Linked DNA regions of Homo sapiens. The protein of the gene in region 1 interacts with the protein of each later gene in a biochemical or structural test. Each region holds a gene or a part of one and is shown in the gene's direction. Other genes may lie near its edges.

Region 1 (7,469 bases):
GTCTTCCCACAGTGGGCCCGAGTCCTGTATCCTAAGTACTGGGTGGGACTCTTCTCAGGGCCAAAGCAGATGCAGTTTCAACAGGGGGGCATGTGGGTCAGGTGCTTGGCATCTGGGAACCTCCTACATGAGCAAGTTGGACCTCAAGGCTGAAGGCTAGGTAGAGATAGAGGACATGCAAGCAGAGTTGCTTGGGATGGGGTGAGTCCTGAAGGGCAGACTCAGAGAATGCAGAGGTCCCCAGGCTGGTGGGTAGACTGGCCAGCATCTGGACTCATGAGACTAGAGAGGGGGCCCATAGATACTGGAGATGGCGAACCTCATGAGATGTCAGCCAATGTGGTGCTGTCACTCAGCTTGCTTGGGAGCATGGAGTTCAGAAGGCCAGGGCAGCTGTTGGAGAAACAAGTACAGACAGATGGACTGTACTAGCCTCCTGGCCTAGGGATGGGATTGTGGGTACACAGATGAATATGGCATCTCTAATGTGCTCCCTACTCCAGCGGAACTTTCACCCTGATAGAAAGAGTGATACTAGGAAACCCCATCTTGGTGGAGGGGAGGGAGGCACTGAATACTGTGTGCACACTGGATACTTCCCAAGGAGATCTTCCTTGTTCAGATGAAGCAAGGGGAACCGAGAGACCCAGCCTTTGCAGGAAGCATACACGGGGGAGGGGAGTTGGGAGCTAACTCCAAGAGAGTCACCAGATCTGACCCAGTGGCCAGCTAGCCCTTGGGAGGAGGCCAGCTTGGAGGAGGTCTTGGTTTTTGGGGCAATCTCTTTGGTCAAGACTCCAAGGAAATGGTATAGCACATACTTGGCTTCCAGAGAGCAGCTTCCAGGAAAACCTCAGCACAGGCAGGGAAGTGTAGAGGTCTCTGGTAGGCCCAAGGACTCTGGCCACAAGGGTTCTTCCTACTCGGGGTGGTGCAGCTCTTCAAAGGATGGGCAGAGGGAAACACCTACCTCCAGAAAAGGAATAGGCCTTACAGCCAAGGCCCACAGCTGGTTATTAGATAAAATCAACTAGAAAAATCTTTCCTGAGGGTTTCTTCTGCTATGACGAGGGACAGGAATTAAGAAGTCTTTTTTTTTTTTTTTTTTTTTTTTTGAGACAGAGTCTCGCACTGTTGCTCAGGCTGGAGTGCAGTTGTATTTTGAGTAGAGGTGAGGTTTCGCCGTGTTAGCCAGCATGGTCTCGATCTCCTCACCTTGTGATCCACCCGCCTCGGCCTCCCAAAGTGCTGGGATTACAGGCGTGAGCCACTGTGCCCGGCCGAGAAGTCTTTTTAACATCATTTGAGAGATATGGTAGAGGAAGAGACCTGAGACCAGAGATAGGAGCTGTGGGAGCATGTTCTGCCAGCTCCAAGCTAGGCCTGAGATTGCCTCCATAGACCTGGGAACCCCACATGTGGGAATATTTCCACCAGCTTTCTAGGGTACATCAAGGCTGAGAAATAGCTCCTGGGGAAGGTGGATAGAGAATCCTAGATCTCCATCCTGGGGAAAATTTGGAGAGAAAGACATGGTACCAGGACAAGCCCAGTGGCTGGACAGGTCAGTGGTTGGAGGGTTTAATAGGGTCCAGGAATTCCTGTGGCCTGTACTTTCCTTGAATGGAGAGAAGAAATTAGGGACCTGGGGAATGTTGTAAGGCATCTACAAAACTTCCCAGAGCTTTTGGGAAATAATTCTGGGGGACAATGGGATTGGAATGCAAACAAAATAGAGCTTTCTTTGAACTAGGTGGTATTCTTAGAATCCAGGATCTGGCTGGATAATCTGGACCTTTTCTCTTTCCTAAAAAGAGCCTTTTCCTTTCTTTCTGGGTTACTAACAGAATATGACACTGTTTGCTGGCACAACTAGAATGGCTGCTGAGGGTCACCGTTAAACTTGATTTTCTTCACTCTACCCTTTGTTCTCCCATTTTGGGTTCATGCAGTTGTGCTGCAGGAGTTGATAAGGAGTGTCTGTGGGAGAGAGTGGGCTGTGCTATGGATAATTAAGGAATGATGTTTTATCTATTGCCATGTAACAAGCCACTCCAAGATTTAGTGTTTCAAAGCAACAATTTCTTATTATCTGGCATGGTTTTGTGGATTGACGGGGCTCAGCTGGGTGGTTCTTCTGCTGGTCTGTCTCAGTGTCTCTCATGCAGTTGCAATCAGATGGTGGCTGGGGCAGAGTCTTGGAGGCTCAACTAGACTGCAGCCTCCAAAATGTCATCTTCACTCACCTGTCTGGTGCTTTGATGTTCTTCCATGTGGCGCCTTTCTCCATGTAGTGTTTCATTCTCCAGGGCCTTTCCACATGGCCTTTCTCTTCAGGAGTTATGTGGTAGCTGGCTTCTAAGAATGCAAAGGCATACATTGCCAGGCCCTCTTAAGGTCTGGGCCCAGAACTGGCATATCGTTTCTGCCACATTCTATTGGGAAAGTAGTCACAGGTCTGTCCAGAGTCAATTTGGAAGGGAGGTGGGTACAGGTGCGGTTATGAGGGAGGCGTGGTTCATCGAGGGCCATATTGCAGACTAGCTCCCTCAGAAGGCTAGGGAGAACATACATGGGACAGATGATCCATTAGTGAGGAGGTAGTGCTGGGCCAGACTGATGAGAGAGAGAACCCCAAGAGGGAGGTAAAATGCAGAGACTTGGCAGTTCTACCTCTATCGCAATCCTTGGAGGGTTTTTTTTTTTTTTTTTTGACTCTAGAGGTTTCTTTCTAAAGGCCACATGATAAACGATGCAGCTGGAATTTGAAATCAGATTTGCCTGGCTCTGGGCCTGTCCACTAAGCCATTGACATACCAGTCCAGCTTTTTTTAGGCCAGGGCTGTTCAGTGCTGATGATTCATAGACATAGTGGATCTGAGCTCCCTGACATCTAATAGATGTTTGCTATATTACACAAATTGATTTTAATACAGAGCCTTTTCCTTTCTTTCTGCAACATGAAAATCACCCAAAATGAGTGTGACCTTGTCCCTCATGCTAGTATTTTTCAGTCAGTCATCAACTCTGTTCACAAAAGGTGCAATTAGGGCTTGTGGCTCGGAGGGGTGGGTAATTGTGACTGAAAAGACCAGCGTGCTTTCTGACATCTTCACTAAATCACCCTCCTCCTTGGTATGGGGGCTGTGGCCAGTATTTGTAGCTCCTGGTGTTAGAAAATGACCTTTGGCCCACCACTCTGTCAGCCTCAGCTCAGAAGGAACCACCTCTTTTGTCACACTTGTGTGCTGGACTGGTCAGTGGCTACCCCACAGGACTTTAAAGCAATGAGCAAGGCTTATGGATTGAGTGGATTCAGGGCATTTTCACAAAAGTTCCCTTAGCAACAAGTCGGCGGGAATCCCTGACATCTGTTCACCGCTCTGTGGATCCCTGATGTCTGTTACCACCTAGAAACATGAATGAGAGGCTGACCTTCACGTACTCTTCTCAGTCTGGAAAAGCCCAGCTTTTTTCTGATGGTGTGGTAGACCTTGTCTGTGAACACGGATACTGATCCTCACTTCGCTGGTGAAAGAAAATGTTTTTTGGTAAACCAGGAAACCTTGTGTACATGTAAGGTATTTTGACTATTATCAGGCCAGCCCAGGGGACTGTGCTGTCTTATTACTCACAGCAGCAAGGCGACACATGACAGGCTTTCTAACAAAATGTCAGGAGGGATTCCTCTGTACTTAAATGCAAAATTAGTATATTTCTCTGTCTCCCTGCAATGGCGAGGCTTCTGGGGTGGTATTTATGCCTATGGCGAGAAGAAGAAGTGGCGGCTGGCAGATCTCTCTGGCTTTTCCTTGGCTGACCAGAACATGTTGTGACGTTGTGAAAGTTTAGTTGCAGTAGGTATATGAACTGTGAGAAGTTTTTGAGGAGTCTTAAGAGGATCCACCCACCTCCTTTCTTCACGTTTTCTGTCTTCCCTACCATCTTTAAGAATTTGTTTTTAGTTTAACTTCCTAGTTCTCCGTCTACTACTCTTCTTGAGCTTGGAGCTGGTTTTCAGATTCAACCTCTAGGTACTCAAATTTCATATGTCAAAACTAAACTCATCATCTCTCTCCTCTTTTTTTTTTTTTTTTTTGAGATGGAGTCTTGCTTTGTTGCCCAGGCTGGAGTGCAGTGGCGTGATCTCGGCTCACTACAACCTCCGCCTCCTGGGTTCAAGTGATTCTCCTGCCTCAGCCTCCTGAGTAGCTGTGATTACAGGCTTCCACCACCATGCCTGGCTAATTTTTGTATTTTTAGTAGAGGTGGGGTTTCACCAGGTTGGCCAGGCTGGTCTCGAACTCCTGACTTTGTGATTCACCCGCCTCAGCCTCCCAAAGTGCTGGGATTACAGGCGTGAGCCACCGTGCCCAGCCCTCTCTCCTCTCCTTACTGCCTTTTTTTTTTTTTTTTTTGACACAGGGTCTTGCTCTGTTGCCCAGGCTGGAGTATAGTGGCATGATCATGGCTCACTGCTGCCTTGACCTCCTGGGCTCAAACGATCCTCCAAGTAGCTTGGACTATAGGCACCTGCCACCATGCCTGGCTAATTTTTGTATTTTTTGTAGAGACAGGGTTTCACCATGTTTCTCAGACTGGTCTCAAACTCTTGGGCTCAAGTGATCCTCCCACCTTGGCCTCCCAAAGTGCTGAGATTACAGGCATGAGCCACCGTGCCCAGCCTCTTCACTGCCTTCTGTTCCCAACCTCTAAACCAAGCTTGTGGAACATGTGGCCCAGGATGGCCTTTGAATGGGGCCCAACACAAATTTGGAAACTTTCTTTTTTTTTTTTTGAGACGGAGTTCCGCTCTCGTTGCCCAGGCTGGAGTACAATGGCGTGATCTCGGCTCACTGTAACCTCTGCCTCCTGGGTTCTAGCGATCCTCCTACCTCAGCCTCCTGGGTAGCTGGGATTACGGGCATGCGCCACCACACCCGGCTAGTTTTGTATTTTTAGTAGAGATGGGATTTCTCCATGTTGGTCAGTCTGGTCTTGAACTTCCCACCTCAGGTGATCCACCTGCCTTGGCCTCCCAAAGTGCTGGGATTACAGGCGTGAACCACCGTGCCTGTTCTTAGGTTTGTAAACTTTCTTAAAACATGAGGGTTTTTTTTTTTTGTGAGATATATATTTTTTAGCTCATCAGCTATAGTAGCGTTAGTGTATTTTATGTGAGGCCCAATATAATTTTTCTTCTTTCAGTGTGGCCCAGGGAAGCCAAAAGATTGGACACCCCTGCTCTAAACTTTAGTGAATGTCACCACCATCTGTCCACCAAGTTCCCTGATATCTCTCCCCTTACCTTTCCTCTCCTGTTCAGTAGGCTAGCAAGCCTCGTCCCTTCCCTTCTTCCTTAGAAGCATTTCTTTTTTTCTTTTTTTTTTTTTTGAGACGGAGTCTTGCTCTGTCGCTCAGGCTGGAGTGTAAAGGCACGATCTTGGCTCACTGCAACCTCCACCTCCTGGGTTCAAGCGATTCTCCTGCCTCAGCCTCCTGAGTAGCTATTACAGGCACGCACCACCACGCCCGGCTAATTTTTGTATTTTTAATAGAGATGGGGTTTCACCACGCTGGTCAGGCTGGACTCAAACTCCTGACCTCATGATCCGCCCGCCTTGGCCTCCCAAAGTGCTAGGGTTACAGGCATGAGCCACTGCGCCCGGCCAGAAACATTTCTTAAAGCCTTCTCCTTCTTAACTTGCGTTGGCAAATCTTTCTGTAAAAGGCCAGGAAACATTTTAGGCTGTGTGGGCCATGAGGCAAAACTGAGTTACGGCTGCATCGGTGTGATCTGTAGTGCGCCAGAGGCAGTGACAAGCAGTGAGAGCATCCCATATGGTCTCTGTCACAACTAATCCACTCTGCTGCTGTAGTGCAAAAGCAGCCAGAGATAATCCGAAAGCCAATGGGCGTGCCTGTGTTCCAATAAAACTTTATTTATGGACTGAAATTTGAATTTGTTATAATTTTCATGGGCCGTGAAGTATTATTCTTCTTTTGATTTGTTTTCAACTTTTTTTTTTTTTTGGGAGATGGAATCTTGCTCTGTTGCCCAGGCTGAAGTGCAGTGGTGTGATCTCGGCTCACTGCAGCCTCTACCTCCTGGGTTCAAATGATTTTCATGCCTCAGCTTCCCAAGTAGTTGGGACTATAGGCACCCGCCACCACAGCCGGCTAATTTTTGTATTTTTAGTAGAGATAGGGTTTTGCCATGTTGGCCAGGCTGGTCTCCAACTCCTGGCCTCAAGTGATCCACCCTCCTTGGCCTCCCAAAGTGCTGGGATTACAGGCTTGAGCCACTGTGCCCAGCCAGCCATGTGACTATTTGGGGGAAAATAATTTGAGGCTGAGGGGGACTGCAGATGTACATAACCCTGAGTAGAGGAGTGTGTTTGATAAACCTGGGAGAGCCAGAATATTCCAGAATGGTTAGAGTGGCAAGTAGGGGGAGAGGGGTTGGGGGTGTGCCGGGGAAGGAGATAGAACCTGGGGAGATGGGTCATTTTCTAAATGCAGTGGAAAAGCCTTTGGTTTGATTGAAGTGGGTGGCATCTTCGGATGCGTTCTGGAAAGCTCTTCTAGACTGCAGGGTGGAGAATGGATTTGAAGAAAACAGGGAGGGGAGGCAAGGAGACCAGTTGGGAAGCTCAGAGCAGGGTGGTGGAAGTGGAGATGGTGAGAGGTGTGTGGATTTGGAATGTATGTTGCAGCTAGTGTCAACAGGTCTTGCTGGTGTGTTGATCGGAGGGAGTAAGGGAACCTCAGGGGGTCTCACTTCTTGCAGGTCACTTGTAATGCACTTTTTCCCTTTTGTATTTTCCCCATCTGTCCATCCTTTATTCTGCCACTAGAAATCTCTTCCCAAAAAAAAGGAGGTAAAAGGCAAATACAAATTTGGAAAAAGTTCCTTAATGTAGAAAGTGCTTTTATAAATTAAAACAACAAAACCCAAAACAAAGAGGAACATATCAGTATAAGAATGGGCAAGGAACTTGGATAGACACTTCATAATAAAACATATACAGGCTGGGCATGGTGGCTCATGCCTATAATCCCAGCACTTTGGGAGGTTAAGGTGGGCAGATTGTTTGAGCCCAGGAGTTCAAGACCAGCCTGGGCAACATGGGGAAACCCAAATTTTTTCTCTATAAATACAAAAAAATTAGCTGGGTGTGATGGTTCATGCCTGTAGCCCCAGCTACTCAGGAGGCTCAGGTGGGAGGATCGCTTGAACCCGGGAGGTCAAAGCTGCAGTGAGCCAAGACTGCACCACTGCACTCTAGCCTGAGTGAAAGCGTGAGACTCTGTCTCTTAAAACAAATGAACACACACACACACAAAACCATATAAAAAGTCCTCAACTATTTAGTCTCGCCAGTGATTGAATAATTGCAAATTTAATTAAAAAACAGCTTGAAGACAGAAATATGTAAAAAAAAAATGGTATTGGCAGGGTGTAAGGA
Region 2 (7,351 bases), on another chromosome or scaffold:
TCTACTTTGTTCACCGTTGTATCTTCTATGCCTTGAAGAGTGCTGCACAGAGTGGCCTCTTATTAAATATTTCACGAAATAATACATATTCACCTTCATTGAAGATGGGACTGATGAAAAAATGATGACAGCCGTGCACGGTGGCTCACACCTATAATCCCAACACTTTGGGAGGCTGAGGCAGACGGATCACTTGAGGTCAGGAGTTCAAGACCAGCCTGGCCAACATGGTGAAACCCCGTCTCTACCAAAAATACAAAAATTAGCCGGGCGTGGTGGCACATGCCTGTAATCCCAGCTACTTGGGAGGCTGAGGCAGGAGAATCACTTGAAACCGGGAGTTGGAGGTTACAGTGAGCCCAGATTGCACCATTGCACTCCAGCCTGGGTGAAGAAGCAAGACTCCGTCTCAAAAAAAAAAAAAAGACAAAATTTTGAGGGATGTAGATTTTGAATGTAGACTTCTATGTTAGCCAGATTGATATTCAGCTGTGATGACTGTCGAATGTATCTGCAGACATAAGGATTCAATCATCCATCTTTGTTTTCTGGAAGAGAAATAATTTACCTTATTGTGTTAATATATTTATATACTAAGTAAAATGCTGTTGTATATATTCGAATGTGTCTGCAGACATAAGGATTCAATCATCTATCTTTGTTTTCTGGAAGAGAAATAATTTACCTTATTGTGTTAATATATTTATATAGTAAGTAAAATGCTGTTGTATAGATACCAGTGTTCTTTTTCTACTTTTTTTTTTTTTTTTTTTTTTTTGAGACGGAGTTGCACTTTTGTTGCCCAGGCTGGAGTGCAATGGCGCGATCTTGGCTCACCGCAACCTCCACCTCCCAGGTTCAAGCAATTCTCCTGCCTCAGCTTCCCTGGTAGCTGGGATTATAGGCATGTGCCACCACGCCCGGCTAATTTCGTATTTTTAGTAGAGACGGGGTTTCTCCATGTTGGTCAGGCTGGTCTCAAACTCCCGACCTCAGGTGATCCGCCTGCCTCGGCCTCCCAAAGTGCTGGAATTACAGGCATGAGCCACTGCGCCCGGCCTATTTTTCTACTTTCTACAATTAGGGAAATACAAGTTAGTATAAGTGACTCAAGAATAAACATTTTGAATAGATTAGCAATCTGCAAAAGATCTTGGAGAGATACTCAAAAATCCATCCTTCAAAAGCATACAGTGGAAAACATTTACAAAGTCTGTTGAAACTTCAAAATAGTTAATTCCTTTATTTACAGTATTCTCTAGAAATACATTAAGACCTTCCCAGTTCATTCTACAGGGCTAGCAAAACCTGCTTTTAAAACTGGAAAATAAGGGCCGGGCCTGGTGGCTCATGCCTGTAATCCCAGCACTTTGGGAGGCCGAGGCAGGCAAAGCACGAGGTCAGGAGTTCGAGACCAGCCTGGCCAACGTGGTGAAACCCTGTCTCTACTAAAAATACAAAAAATTACCCCTGGTGTGGTGGTGGGCGCCTGTAATCCCAGCTACTCAGGAGGCTAAGGCAGGAAGATCATTTGAACTCAGGAGACGGAGGTTGCAGTGAGCCAAGATCGCACCACTGCACTCCAGCCTGGGCGACAGTGTGAGACTCCGTCTCAAAAAAGCAAACAGGCCGGGTGCGGTGGCTCACGCCTGTAATCCCAGCACGTTGGGAGGCCGAGGCGGGTGGATCACGAGGTCAGGAGATCAAGACCATCCTGGCTAACACAGTGAAACCCCGTCTCTACTAAAAGATACAAAAAAATTAGCCGGGCGCAGTGGCGGGCGCCTGTAGTCCCAGCTACTGGGGAGGCTGAGGCAGGAGAATGGCGTGAACCCGGGAGGCGGAGTTTGCAGTGAGCCGAGATCGCGCCACTGCACTCCAGCCTGGGGGACAGAGTGAGACTCCGTCTCAAAAACAAACAAACAAACAAACTGGAGAGTAAGGCCAGGTGCGGTGGCCCATGCCTGTAATCCCAGCACTTTGGGATGCCAAGGCAGTCGGATCACTTGAGGTCAGAAGTTCGAGACCAGTCTGACCAACATGGTGAAACCCTGTCTCTACTAAAAATACAAAAGATAGCTGGGTGTGGTGGCACGTGCCTGTAATCCTAGCTACTCGGGAGCCTGTAATTCCAGCTACTCAGGAGGCTGAGGCAGGAGAATCACTTGAACCCAGGAGGTGGAGTTTGCAGTGAGCCGAGATTGCGCCGCCACTGCACTCCAGCCTGGGCGACAGAGCGAGACTCTGTCTTAAAAAACAAACAAACAAACAAAAAACCAGCAACACCTTTTCTAGGAATATGCTCAAAGAAACTTATACATGAGCACTTGATTCATGAAATGGTGTACCTTGTTCACAAAACATTGCAACTTGTTTCACCATTCATTGGATAATGTGATAGATTTACAACAGAAAATATTTGGCTGGGCACAGTTTCTCACGCCTGTAATCCCAGCATTTTGGGAGGCAGAGGCGGGTGGATTAACTGAGGTCAGGAGTTTAAGACCAGCCTGACCAACATGGTGAAACCCTGTCTTTACTAAAAATACAAAAATTAGTTGGGCGTGGTGGCAGGTGCCTGTAATGCCGGCTACTTGGAAGGCTGAGGCAGGAGAATTGCTGAAACCCGGGAGACAGAGGTTGCAGTGAGCTGAGATCTAGCCAACAAGTGAAACTCAATCTCAAAAAAAAACAAAAAGAAAGAAAGAAAGAAAAAGAAAATATTTGTACAGCAGTGAAAATGGATGAACTATAGCTGCAGGCAACAACATGGAGAAATCTCCAAAATCTAATGTTATATGAAGAAAGTACATCCCATAAGACTACATACAGTATAATACTATTTCTATAAAACAAAGCCTAGTAAGATAAAGCAGAATATCATTAAGTATACATTTATCTGTGATATTGCAGGTTTTGTTTTTTTGTTTGTTTGTTTGTTTTGAGATTGAGTCTCGCTCTGTCGCTCACGCTGGAGTGCAGTGGCGCGATCTTGGCTGACTGCTACCTCTACCTTTCGGTTTCAAGCAGTTCTCCTGCCTCAGCCTCCCGAGTAGGTGGGATTACAGGCGCCCACCACCATGCCCGGCTGATTTTTGTATTTTTAGTAGAGATGGGGTTTCACCGTGTTGGCCAGGCTGGTCTCAAATTCCTGACCATGATCCTCCCTCTTCAGCCTCCCAAAGTGCCTGTGTTACAGGTGTGAGCCACCATGCCCAGCCCAATGCAGGTTTTGTTTGTTTGTTTGTTTTTTGTTTTTTACAAAACTAAATGTGCTTATTGGCTGGGCATGGTGGCTCATGCCTGTAATCCCAGGACTTTGGGAGGCCAAGGTGAGAGGATTGCTTGAGCCCTAGTGAGAGCTTGTCTCTACAGAAAATTTAAAAATTAGCTGAGAATGGCGGCACACACCCATAGTCCCAACTACCCGGGAGCCTGAAGCAGAAGGATCACTTGAACCCAGGAGATTGGTCTTAGGCTGAGGTGGAAGAATCGCTTGAACCCAGGAGGTCGAGGCTGCCTTGAGCTGAGATCGTGCCACTGCACTCCAGCTTGGGCAACAGTGAGATCCTGTCTCAAAAAAAAAACGTGCTTACCGTATCGTTCAACAGTTGCATTCTTGGGTATTTATTTCAGGGAAATTAAAACTCAACACAAAACCTGTACATGAATGTTCACAGCAGCTTTATTCATAGTAGCCAAAAACTGGAAACAAACCAAATGCCTCCAATAAACTGGCACACCCATACAGTGGAACAGTACTGTGCAATAAAAAAAAAAAAAAAAAGGAACTGTTAATAAATGCAGCAACTTGCTTGATCACAAGAGAATTAAGCTGAGTGAAGAAAGCCAATCTCAAAAGGTTACATACTATATGATTTCATTAATATAACATTCTTGAAGAAACAGAATAGTGGAGATGAAGACTATATTAGTGGTTGCCAGTGGTGAGAGATGAGGGAAAACGGTGACTGGCTATCAAAGGGTAAGGATCCTCATGATGGAACTGTTCTGTATCTTGACTGAGGTGGTGGTCACATGAGTCTGATTAAATTGCATAGAACTAAGCAAACAAGTACATGTAAAGGTGGTGAAATCCTAATAAAGTCAATTGTTAATTTTTTTTCCATGAAACCTGTACAACAAATTTTCTTATTTTAATGTTAATTTTCTGATTGTGATACAGATATGCAAAATGTTATGGGGAAAACTAAAGTATACAGGATCTCTGTTATTTCTTAGAACTGCATATAAATCTAAAATTGCCTTAAAATTAAAAAAAAAAATTTTCAAAGTTGCAAAGCTCTAAATTGTGCACTAAGGAAAAGATTTGGGAGACCATAGTCAATATGACAGAGTTTTCTACTGTCCTGGAATGTAAAAATTGAGCCCATATGAAAGGGCTTGTAACAGGCCTTTGGGGGATTTTTTTTTAACCAATACCCAGCCTTTCTATACCCATAGCCAATATTGTATATAATATATTATGAGTTTATATTTTTTTCTGGGTTGCTAATCAGTAGCTTCCATCAAATTCTCAGAGGGACCCATGATTCCAAAAAAAATAAAGAACCTATTGGCTTTGTGCTCTTGCTTGAAACAATAAGTAATTTGATAAATAAAACAAATGAAGTTGTTTTGCAATAGTAAGCTTATGGGACTTCTGATTCCAAAAGATGATACCAACAGAAAAGTTGAGAATTATAAATTTGGGGATGATAAAGTCATGTGAGTTGTTTAAGGGAAGTTGAGGGTGTTAACCATACTTTTTTGTATTTGTTTTTTTTTGAAACAGGTTCTCACTATGTCACTCAGGCTGGAGTGCAGTAACGCAATCTTGGCTCACTGCAACCTCTGCTTCCCGGGTTCAAGCGATTCTTGTGCCTCAGCCTCTCAAGTAACTGGGATTACAGGCGCATGACACCACACCTGGCTAATTTTTGACAGGCAGGCGGCACCACGCCTGGCTAAGTTTTGTATTTTTAGTAGAGACAAGGTTTCACTGTGTTGGCCAGGCTGGTCTTGAACTTCTGACCTCAGGTTATCTGCCTGCCTCAGCCTCCCAAAGTGCTGGGATTATAGGCGTGAGGCACCACACCCAGCGGCACATTTCTTTTTTTTTTTTTTTTAAGGAGATGGAGTCTTGCTCTGTCACCCAGGCTGGAGACTGGAGTGCAGTGGCATGATCTCGGCTCACTACAACCTCCACCTCCCGGGTTCAAGCGATTCTCCTCTCTCAGCCTCCTGAGTAGCTGAGACTACAGGAGCGCGCCACCACGCCCAACCAGTTTTTAGATTTAGCTAGAGTAAATCTTTAAATCTTTAGTAGAGACAGGGTTTCACCATAGTAGAAACAGGGTTTCACCATGTTGGCCAGGATAGTCTCGATCTCCTGCCCACCTTGGCCTCCCAAAGTGCTGGGATTACAGGTGTGAGCCACCGCGCCCCAGCCGGTACATTTCTTTTAATTCGGTTAATGATTATAGATGCCTGTTGTGTATCAAGCATTGTACTGTACTAAGAATTACAGACACTCAGCAATGGAAGGAGTCCAGAGATTGTTAACAACAGGCAAAGGAGGAGTGCTGTGTTTAGAAGTGTAGAACCAAGTATAGTGGGAGTCTAGAGGAGGGTATGAAATGAACCCTGACCTTTTAGAGCAGTTCTGAGAATCTTGCTCTCCTAGAAATACTCGCTCTGGATACTTAGAAAATCTTGACCATTGTCTTGTTCCTTATGCAGGCCATATCAAACGTTCAGTTGGCCGGGCGCGGTGGCTCACGCTTGTAATCCCAACACTTTGGGAGGCCGAGGCAGGTGGATCACAAGGTCAGGAGATCGAGACCATCCTAGCTAACACGGTGAAACCCCGTCTCTACTAAAAATACAAAAATTAGCCAGGTGTGGTGGCATGCGCCTATAGTCACCAGCTACTCGGGAGGCTGAGACAGGAGAATTGCTTGAACCCGGGAGGCGGAGGTTGCAGTGAGCCAAAATTGCGCCACTGCACTCCAGTGTGGGTGACAGAGCAAGACCCTGTCTCAAAAAAAAAAAAAGTTCAGTTAATGATATATTTGTATTGATTTTTTAGTTAAGCCAGACCAGTTGATAAAGTTGGTATATAATTTTCCCAGACTTCTCTAATATTAACTTTTTTTGTGTGAGTTACATCTCTTTTTCGCCCTCTCTCTTTTTTTCTTACTATTTTTCTTATTAACATTCTCTTTTAAAGTCATACACCAAGCATGTAGGAGAGCTGGGAATCAAACCCACTTTGTCTAGCTTCAAAACCCTTGTCTTTCCTCCAAGATATATTAAGCAACGTGGAAGCTTATAGTCTGGTTGGGATAAAATCTACAAAAAAAACAAAAGTGGGGGGTGGGAAAGGTTAAGTTATAGTAAAAGATGAAGGAAATTTTGAAAGGTTAACTGAATTTACTTTCTTTGGTATAAGAAGTGACTTGGGTTTAAGTATCTGCTATGTCACTAATTAGTTTTGAGATCTTGGACAAGTTATATAGCTTTTCTGAGCCCGGGTTTCTTCATCTGTCAAATGAAGATAATACTGGTTACAAAGACAAAGTGAAATAATAAATACAAAATTCCTGACGCATAGAAGGCATTGGATAAGATATGATTATTCTGAGTGGCTGGGAAACAAATGGGTCACCTCTTGTGTTGTTTACACCTCAGCTTTGTTTTCTTTGGCCCTTGGGATATCCAAGGTCTCCAGAGACCCAAGCAAAGATTACTTAAAGGAGTCAGTTCCAAAAGGGTTGTCTAGAAAGTACTTTTGCCTGAGGTTAAACCATTTTTAGGAAGCTCCTCCTTGATTTTTTGTCTTCCCATTTCAGTCTACTCTAGCTCTCCGGGGAAAGCAAGGACAAGGAGAGACATACAGAGTTGAAAAAGAAAAAAGAAAGACCAGACCATCAGACAACTGAACATCTGAGACACCCATAAAGCCCTTTTATTACCTTTAGGCCACATGCCAGTGTCTGAGGGTATAAATTGTACTTAAAATTTTATAAAAGTCAGCTCTTCCTTGCTTAAATAAAGTGTGCCCCCCACAAACACACACTCATCAAGAGACAATAGGAAAAGCATGAAATTAGAAGTTAGAGGCCTGGCGCGGTGGCTCACGCCTGTAATTCCAGCACTTTGGGAGGCCAAGGTGGGTGGATCACCTGAGATCAGGAGTTGAAGACCAGCCTGGCCAACATGGTGAAACCTTTTTTCTACTAAAAATACAAAATTTAGCTGGGCGTGGTGGCAGATGCTTGTAATCCCAGCTACTCAGGAGGCTGAGGTAGGGAGAATTGCTTGAACCTGGGAGGCAGAGGTTGCAGTG
Region 3 (7,351 bases), on another chromosome or scaffold:
TTAATGCATGTGCATTAGATTGTCTACCAGATCTAATTACTCTGTTTCAATTGGAAGTATACAGTGGAAATGATATTTTAGTGAACATATACAATGAAAAATAGTTAAGTAAAATAACTTATTATTGTCAGTAATATGCTTTGGCGCTTATTAGGGAAGTTGGAGCATGATTACTGAAGAATGTTTTTTTTTTTTAATTTCATCAGTCAAAAATTTTGAGATCTTAATATTTACAATTTATGGGAATTTTAGGGAACTTGTAGTTTGACGGAGGATGTAGGAACACATAAAAGCGGATTTTAGGGAAAAGACTTGAAGGTTGTTGGTAGCTTTACATTTAAATTTATTTGTTGCTTAATTCCTTTTTTTTTGTTTTTAAATATATGGTTTCCCTTTTGCAGACCTAATAATGTGACTCACTCATGTAGAGATTTGTAACATTTTTAAAGGTTCCAGCATGGCAACTTGTGTGGTGGTGGGATTAAGAGCACTGGGCCAGAAGTTAAGAGACTTGCATTCCAATCTTCATTCTGTCACTGAGAGTTCTCTAACATTGGTTAGTAATTTGACTTTCTTGAGCTTCACTTTTCCTCATCTGTAAAATGGGGAAAATTAACTGTAAAAGGAACACTAAAGTCTATTCCAGCTCTATCTTTATGATTTTATGGTGAAGTAGTAGAGTAGAAATTATGTTTCATTTTAAACAATAACTGAACTCAGTTTAGTTTTCTGTAATGTAGGGAGCATAATGCCTGCCCTACATACTTCACAGAATTGCTTCTGAAGGTAGAGGATGGTAATATGTGAAAATAGTATTTAGGAATCTGAGCATCTCTTTTGGGCAACATTGTTTTTCTGAAATTGTATAACTGTTCAACAAAACTGCCAAATACCCAAAGAAAACATTTTGCTCAGTTAAATTTTTGTGTGTGTGGTTTACTCTCTTCTTTTTTTCCTTCTCCTTTCTTTTCCTCCACCATTACCAACATGAGATTAATCTCTGTATTAAAAAGATCTTAGTTAATACTTGCGTCTTTTCCTCCTGTTAAATTTCTGCCTGTACTGTAAAGGTCAGAGAATGAGAAAAAAAAAAAAACCCATACAACTATTACAAACTTTTTAAAGTGGAGTATTGTGGTGGTTTAAATGCAGTTTTACTTCTTTAAAAACATTAGAGGAATATTTTTCTTTTTTTCCCTATCCTTTTCTCATTATTTTGGATAAATTTATTTTCTAAGGAAAAGTTTAACAGGACTAGCATTGTAAAATTGAAAGTCTTTAGCCAGTATCTGCTTATTTAGTGGGGGAAGAAAAGATGTTTGTGAAGGGAGCAGTGCAGGGTAAAGGGAGGGGAACTGGTTTTAGTCTTCCCTTTCAGTATTGTATTTGTTTCCACTTAGGGTGTTATTTTCTCTTTTGGTCAATCAGATGCAGAAGCGTGTTCCAGAGATGCTTAGGAAAATAATTATTTTTAATTTTTAAGTAGCAATGATAAATAATCCATCTTTTGTTTCCTTTATGGAATTGTTAAGTAACTTTAAAATTTTTTAATGATTACCAGAGGAATATATGTTTATTGTCAAAAACTCAAACATAACATAAATGAGTGACTTCAAAAATTCACTGTCTGCCCATCTTTATAACTTTATAAGCTACTGAATTGTTAGTTTGTAAGTAGGGTTGTATATGTGCCAGTTTGAAATGATTCTCTTGTTTTAAGTAGAAGAACCCATACTGGAAAATGCTTTGTTATTGCATAGTTGACTATTTTAGATAGTAATAAAATTGCATCTTTAAAACTGTTTTATAAGCCATCATATGAGCTATTCTTTCAGTTACTCTCAAATATTGAGGTTTTCCCTTTTAATTTATTCATTTACTCTTCGTTTATTGAATGTGTTCCCTGGCATGAGGGAAATAGAGGTAAATTAAGATGAAGTCTCTAGTGCCAAGAAATTAGTGTCTTAGTGGGGAGAGAGATGTATAGATATTTAACTAAAATGCAGTGTGTAAGTAGGATTGTCGGAGTCTTGAGAAGGGAATTAAGGATTATAATCTGGGAGAGATGGTAAAGAGGAGAGTCACATTTGTACTTGGTTTTGAAGTATGAATAGAAACTTCAGGCAGCCAGTGACAGAAACTAACTAGTTACTATTTCAGATTGCAGAGTTTTTATTCAGTAGGATATACAGAGGGTCCCCAACTTGTGATGGTTTGACTTAACAATTTGTTGACTTCTTGTTGGCACAAAAGCTATGGCATGCAGTAGGAAGTGGTATGATACTTTCTTGTGATCTGATACTCTGCAGTGTACTGTATTACCAGATAATTTACTCAACTGTAGTCTAATGTAAGTGTTTAAGGTAGGCTAGGCTAAACTATGATGTTAGGTAGGTTAGGTGTGTTAAATGCATTTCTTCTCTTTTTTTGGAGACAGGGTCTAGCTCTGTCATACAAGCTGGAGTACAATGGCACGATCTCAGCTCACTGCAGCCTCTGCCTCCTGGCTCAGGCGATCCTCCCACCTCAGCCTTCTGAGTAGCTGGGACTATAGGCACATGCCACCATGCCAGGCTAATTTTTGTATTTTTTTTGATAGAGTTGGGGTTTCACCGTGTTGCCCAGGCTGGTCTCTGTCTCCTGGGGTCGAGCAATCCACTCGCTTCAGCCTGCCAAAGTACTGGGATTACAGGTGTAAGCTACCGCACCTGGCTGATTTATGATATTTTCAATTAAAGATAGGTTTATTGGAATGTAACCCTATTGTTAAGTTGAGGAGCATCTGTATAAAGATAACAAAATACAGTCATTCTGCATAATGATATTTCACATAACACTGAAATGATGGACTGCCTATACACAGTAGTCCCATAAGATAACACTGTATTCTTACTGTTTTTTTTTATGTTTAGATACATTTAGATACAAAAATACATACCATTATGTTGCAATTGCCTGCAGTATTCTCATTGTACGGGTTTGTAGCATGAAAGCAGTAGGCTATATCCCATGTACCCTGGGTGTATAGTAGGCTATACCATCTAGGTTTATGTAAGTACGCTCTGATGTTCACACAATGATGAAATCATCTGATGACATTAAGCAATGCATGACTGTGTTAGAGTATAAAATAGTAATGCTCTTCTTGCAGGCATATAACCTCTAAACTTCACTTATTTTCTAAACATTTTCCGTACTTGCAGAATATTCTGTGAGTTGAGAGAGCTAGATTCTAGATAATGCTCTGATACTTTTTTTTTAGTTTGAACAAGTTATTTAACATTTCTGGGCTGTAGGTTACTTACAAAGTGAGGAGATCAGTGGTTCCTAGCCAGGGATACATAATAGAATCCTCTTGGAAGGTTTTTCCAAATTCCATACATCTGGATCCTGACCCAAACTTAACTTGAACAGAAAAAAATCCCTGAAATTGTTCCAATGTTAACTACTGAAATAACTGAAATGTAAATTCTTAAATACCTGTAATTTCTTTTCCTGCTAATTATTAACTGTGGTGATTTAATTTAGTTGTCTGGGTTATAACTAAATTTCTGGAAGGCTGCACATTGGCTGTCTACTAGCAAAACCAGCTCCATGGTACTTATTTGCTCTCAGCTTCTGTTATGCTTCAAGCTGTATTTTTTGGCTTTCTAAGCCTTGCTAGTCTTATTGATTCTAACTCTTGTAATCTTAAATAGATATTCCAGTTATCTCACGTTTTTGGAATACGCTTTTATTAACCTCATAGGTTAAGAGGAGAATTAAATGAGTGAATCCATAGGAAGTATTGGTACAGTGCCTTGTAGCAAGCGTAAGAGCTGAGGAAATGGTGGCTGTTGTTACTAGTTCTATTTCTGGGGCTTGGAACATAGTGGACACTTAATAAATGTTCATTCCCCCCCACCCCCAGATTAAATTAAGCTCAAGACTACCTTTTAGGAAACATTCCTCACTATTCTATTTTACTGCCTGATACAGTTTGACATCTACTTACTGCTAAGACAGAATAATTATTTGTATTTCAGAAGTATGTGTTCCACAGTAGTCCTTTAAATAACAATTTCTTTTTAACCGCAAAGGTATGACAATATATATACTTTAAAAAACTGCAAAAACACCTTTGCTTCATAAACTGAGATGATCCTGTATATTGGAAGCTGAAAACTGTTTAAAGGCAACAGTGACATATATATCTTCTTGTAAATGGAATGGTAATTAATAACTCATTTGAATCACTAAATTTTTTTCTTTTTTTTGAATCACTAATTTTGAAGTGTATAATGGGTTGAAGTTTTTCAAGTTCATGACTTTCTCAGAACTTGTGTCTAAAGGACAATAACTGTGATTTCTATATTTTTAGATCTCAATTATTGGCTCCAATTAAGAGGTAGTTATTGATAAAATTACATTAATTTGAAAGCATTTCCAATAATTTCAGTATACTTTGTTATCAAGCCTCTTAATCCAAGTTACTAGCAGTAGATTGCTCTCTTTTCTTTTTACCTACCTAAGAGGGAAAGTGCTAACTTAAAGCAGATCGGTTGGCCAAAATATACATCATAACACAGGAGGAAAAAAATAATCGGAAAGCTAACTACTGATGAATTTGAGTCTTATTTTGCTCTTGATATAAAGTTTTCCAGTACTTATGGACAATTTTCATACTGTAATATTTTCATTATTTAAAAAATTGGAACATAAAATAATCATAGGTATATATTACTTTTACATTCCATAATTTCAGGTAACGTCTATTCTTCCTCTAGGTATTAATTTCAATTTGTTGAAAACTCAGGGAAGAATCTTTGTCCCTTTATTCCTTCAATTTTGCAAAACGTGTGGTGTTTCTTGGTTATTAAGTCAAATTCCTCTTTCGAGTCTAAATTGGCCACATTTTGTATTTTTCTCCTCATCCTTGACATTATTCAGATGGGGCTGGTTTCTGTGCCCTCACGAATAGCATTCTCACTCTGACTCCTGAGATCTTGTTCATATTTTTTCAGTTAATTCATTGTACTAGAAAATCATTTTGTTCTTCCCTATTTTGGCATTTTTCCAATTATTGTACTAGAAAATAATTGTTCTTCCATATTTTAGCAAAGGAATGTGTTTTATTCCTGAGTTAGAATAGAAATTAAAAAATAAAACTGAAGCTAGGCACAGTAGTAGTGCGTGCTTGTAATCCCAGGTACTTAGGAGGCTGAGGCAGAAGGATCTCTTGAGACCAGGAGTTCAAGTCCAGCCTGGGCAATATAGCAAGATGCTGTCTCAAAAAAATAAAATGGATTGAACTGATCAGATTTTTACCGTGATAGCAACTGCTTCCTGAGGTTTTAAGCAGCGGAGGTTTTGAATAAGTGGAGCATGTTTTTAAACATTATTTTTGGGAGGGGACATATATTTTTAGATAGTGTTTTGGAATCAGGTATGAATTTCTCTGTAGGTCCTGTCAGTAGTTGTGAAATCTTGATCAAGTTACTTAATTTTTCAGAAGCTCCTTTCCTTTCTGTTGAGTGATAATTTAGATAATTTCTAAAGCATAGGTGTTTTGCACACAATAATTGCACAGTAAATGTTCTTTTTACTTCCAACATCTTTTGTATCTTGATTATTTTGTTGTTTTTTTTCCTTCTCTCTCTTTTTTTTTTTTTTTTTTTCGAGTCAGGGTCTCACTCTTGCCTAGGCTGGAGTTTGCAGTGGTTGTGAACAGGGCTCACTGTAGACTCAACCTCCCTGGCTCAAGCAGTCCTTCCATCTTAGCCTCCCAGGTAGCTGGGACCACAGATATTTACCACCACGTTTGGCTAATTTTTAAACATTTTGTAGAGACAGGGTCTCCCTCTTGCCCAAGGTGGTCTCAAACTTGTGGGCTCCAGCAATTCTCCTGCCTTGGCCTCCGCAAGTGCTGGGATTGCAGGTGTGAGCTACTGAGCAGTCTTTTTTTTTTGGTGTCTTGATTGTTGCTTAATCTCTTGTGAATAGATAGAGGAATTTTAAAAATCTGTATTTTTTTTTTTTGGCATCATGGTAAGTTCTTGGAAAAATAGTAACATTAACCATGTAAAGTTAAGCTGTGGTATGTAATCCTATGCTGTAATAGCTTGAGGAAAGGCCTCAGTATGGGGGTTTGTGGTAGAGTGGCAGAAAGATGTGTTTTAAAGTCATACTTTAAAATGGCATAGGGTCTAGGCTTGATGTTTCTAATCAAAGATGTTTCTTTTGTGGCCCGGATAATATATTGTGTAGTTTTCTGAAACATCCTTGTCCTTCATTTTTACTGATAACATCAGATTTGTGTTTTAAAAGGAACTTAGAGATATTGAATTGACTACTGACCTATAGTTTTTTTTTTGTTTCTTTTGAGACAGAGTTTCACTCTTGTTGCCCAGGCTGGAGTGCAGTGGCGCGATCTTGGCTCACTGCAACCTGCGCCTTCCGGGTTCAAGCGATTCTCCTGCCTCAGCCTCCCGAGTAGCTGGGATTACAGGCGCCAGACCATACCTGGCTATTTTTTTTTTTTTGTATTTTTAGTAGAAACGGGGTTTCACCGTGTTGGCTAGGCTGGTCTTGAACTCCTGACCTCGCGATCTGCCCACCTCGGCCTCCCAAAGTGCTGGGATTACAGGCGTGAGCCACTGAGCCCAGCCTAGAATTGTTTTTATGGAAAATCTTGTTTCCATAATTGAGAACTCACTATGTGTATCCATGTATATAAAGAAGTTTTATTTAAAAAAATATTTGGAACTTATTTATTAACTACATATGTGCCAGGCACCTAAATAAACAGTTTATGTGTATCTTATCTTTTAAATATTTTAACAGTGTACCCTATGCAGTAGGTAGTAATAATATCCTCAATTTATGGGTTAGGTAACTGAGGCTGAGAGGTTAGGCAACTTGCCTAAGGTCATATAGGCTATTATGCACTTGACCCAAGAGACAAGGGTTTTAATTACTATGTTTAAGTGTATCCTTTAACATCACTGTAATTTTATCTGTCACATAAAATAATCCTGACTTTTAAAATATTATAATTAGAATATTCATGGAGAATAAAGTTCCAATTCTGAGAACTGGAAATTTAAGTATATAAATATTTAAATTTATTTTAGATCTTCTGAAATTTGAAATTATAGTATTTTATGTTTTATGAAAATATGCTGACTCAAGATAAAGTAAAACAGGGTACTTGGGGGAGTTTTTGTTTTTTCAATTCTGTACTTTATGCATAGTTTTCTTTCTGTGTAGTGAAATACCTCTTTTAGTCAATTCTCTGAAAAAGTTTTTTTTTTGGTAGGGCTATAAAATTCAGGGATTTAGACATCATTTTACACTGTATTCACCTTTCCTT

Evidence for each region.
Region 2: the proteins of GAS7 (region 1) and KHDRBS1 form a complex in vitro, tested with the Homo sapiens proteins (one study listed by BioGRID).
Region 3: the proteins of GAS7 (region 1) and NCKAP1 form a complex in vitro, tested with the Homo sapiens proteins (one study listed by BioGRID).

The regions. Positions count from the first base shown.
Region 1 is NC_000017.11:10,188,505-10,195,973, reverse strand, and holds part of GAS7 (growth arrest-specific protein 7), read left to right. Parts: intron 1-7,469. UniProt on the Homo sapiens protein: May play a role in promoting maturation and morphological differentiation of cerebellar neurons.
Region 2 is NC_000001.11:32,016,847-32,024,197, forward strand, and holds part of KHDRBS1 (KH domain-containing, RNA-binding, signal transduction-associated protein 1), read left to right. Parts: intron 1-7,351. UniProt on the Homo sapiens protein: Recruited and tyrosine phosphorylated by several receptor systems, for example the T-cell, leptin and insulin receptors. Once phosphorylated, functions as an adapter protein in signal transduction cascades by binding to SH2 and SH3 domain-containing proteins.
Region 3 is NC_000002.12:183,028,128-183,035,478, reverse strand, and holds part of NCKAP1 (nck-associated protein 1), read left to right. Parts: intron 1-7,351. UniProt on the Homo sapiens protein: Part of the WAVE complex that regulates lamellipodia formation. The WAVE complex regulates actin filament reorganization via its interaction with the Arp2/3 complex. Actin remodeling activity is regulated by RAC1.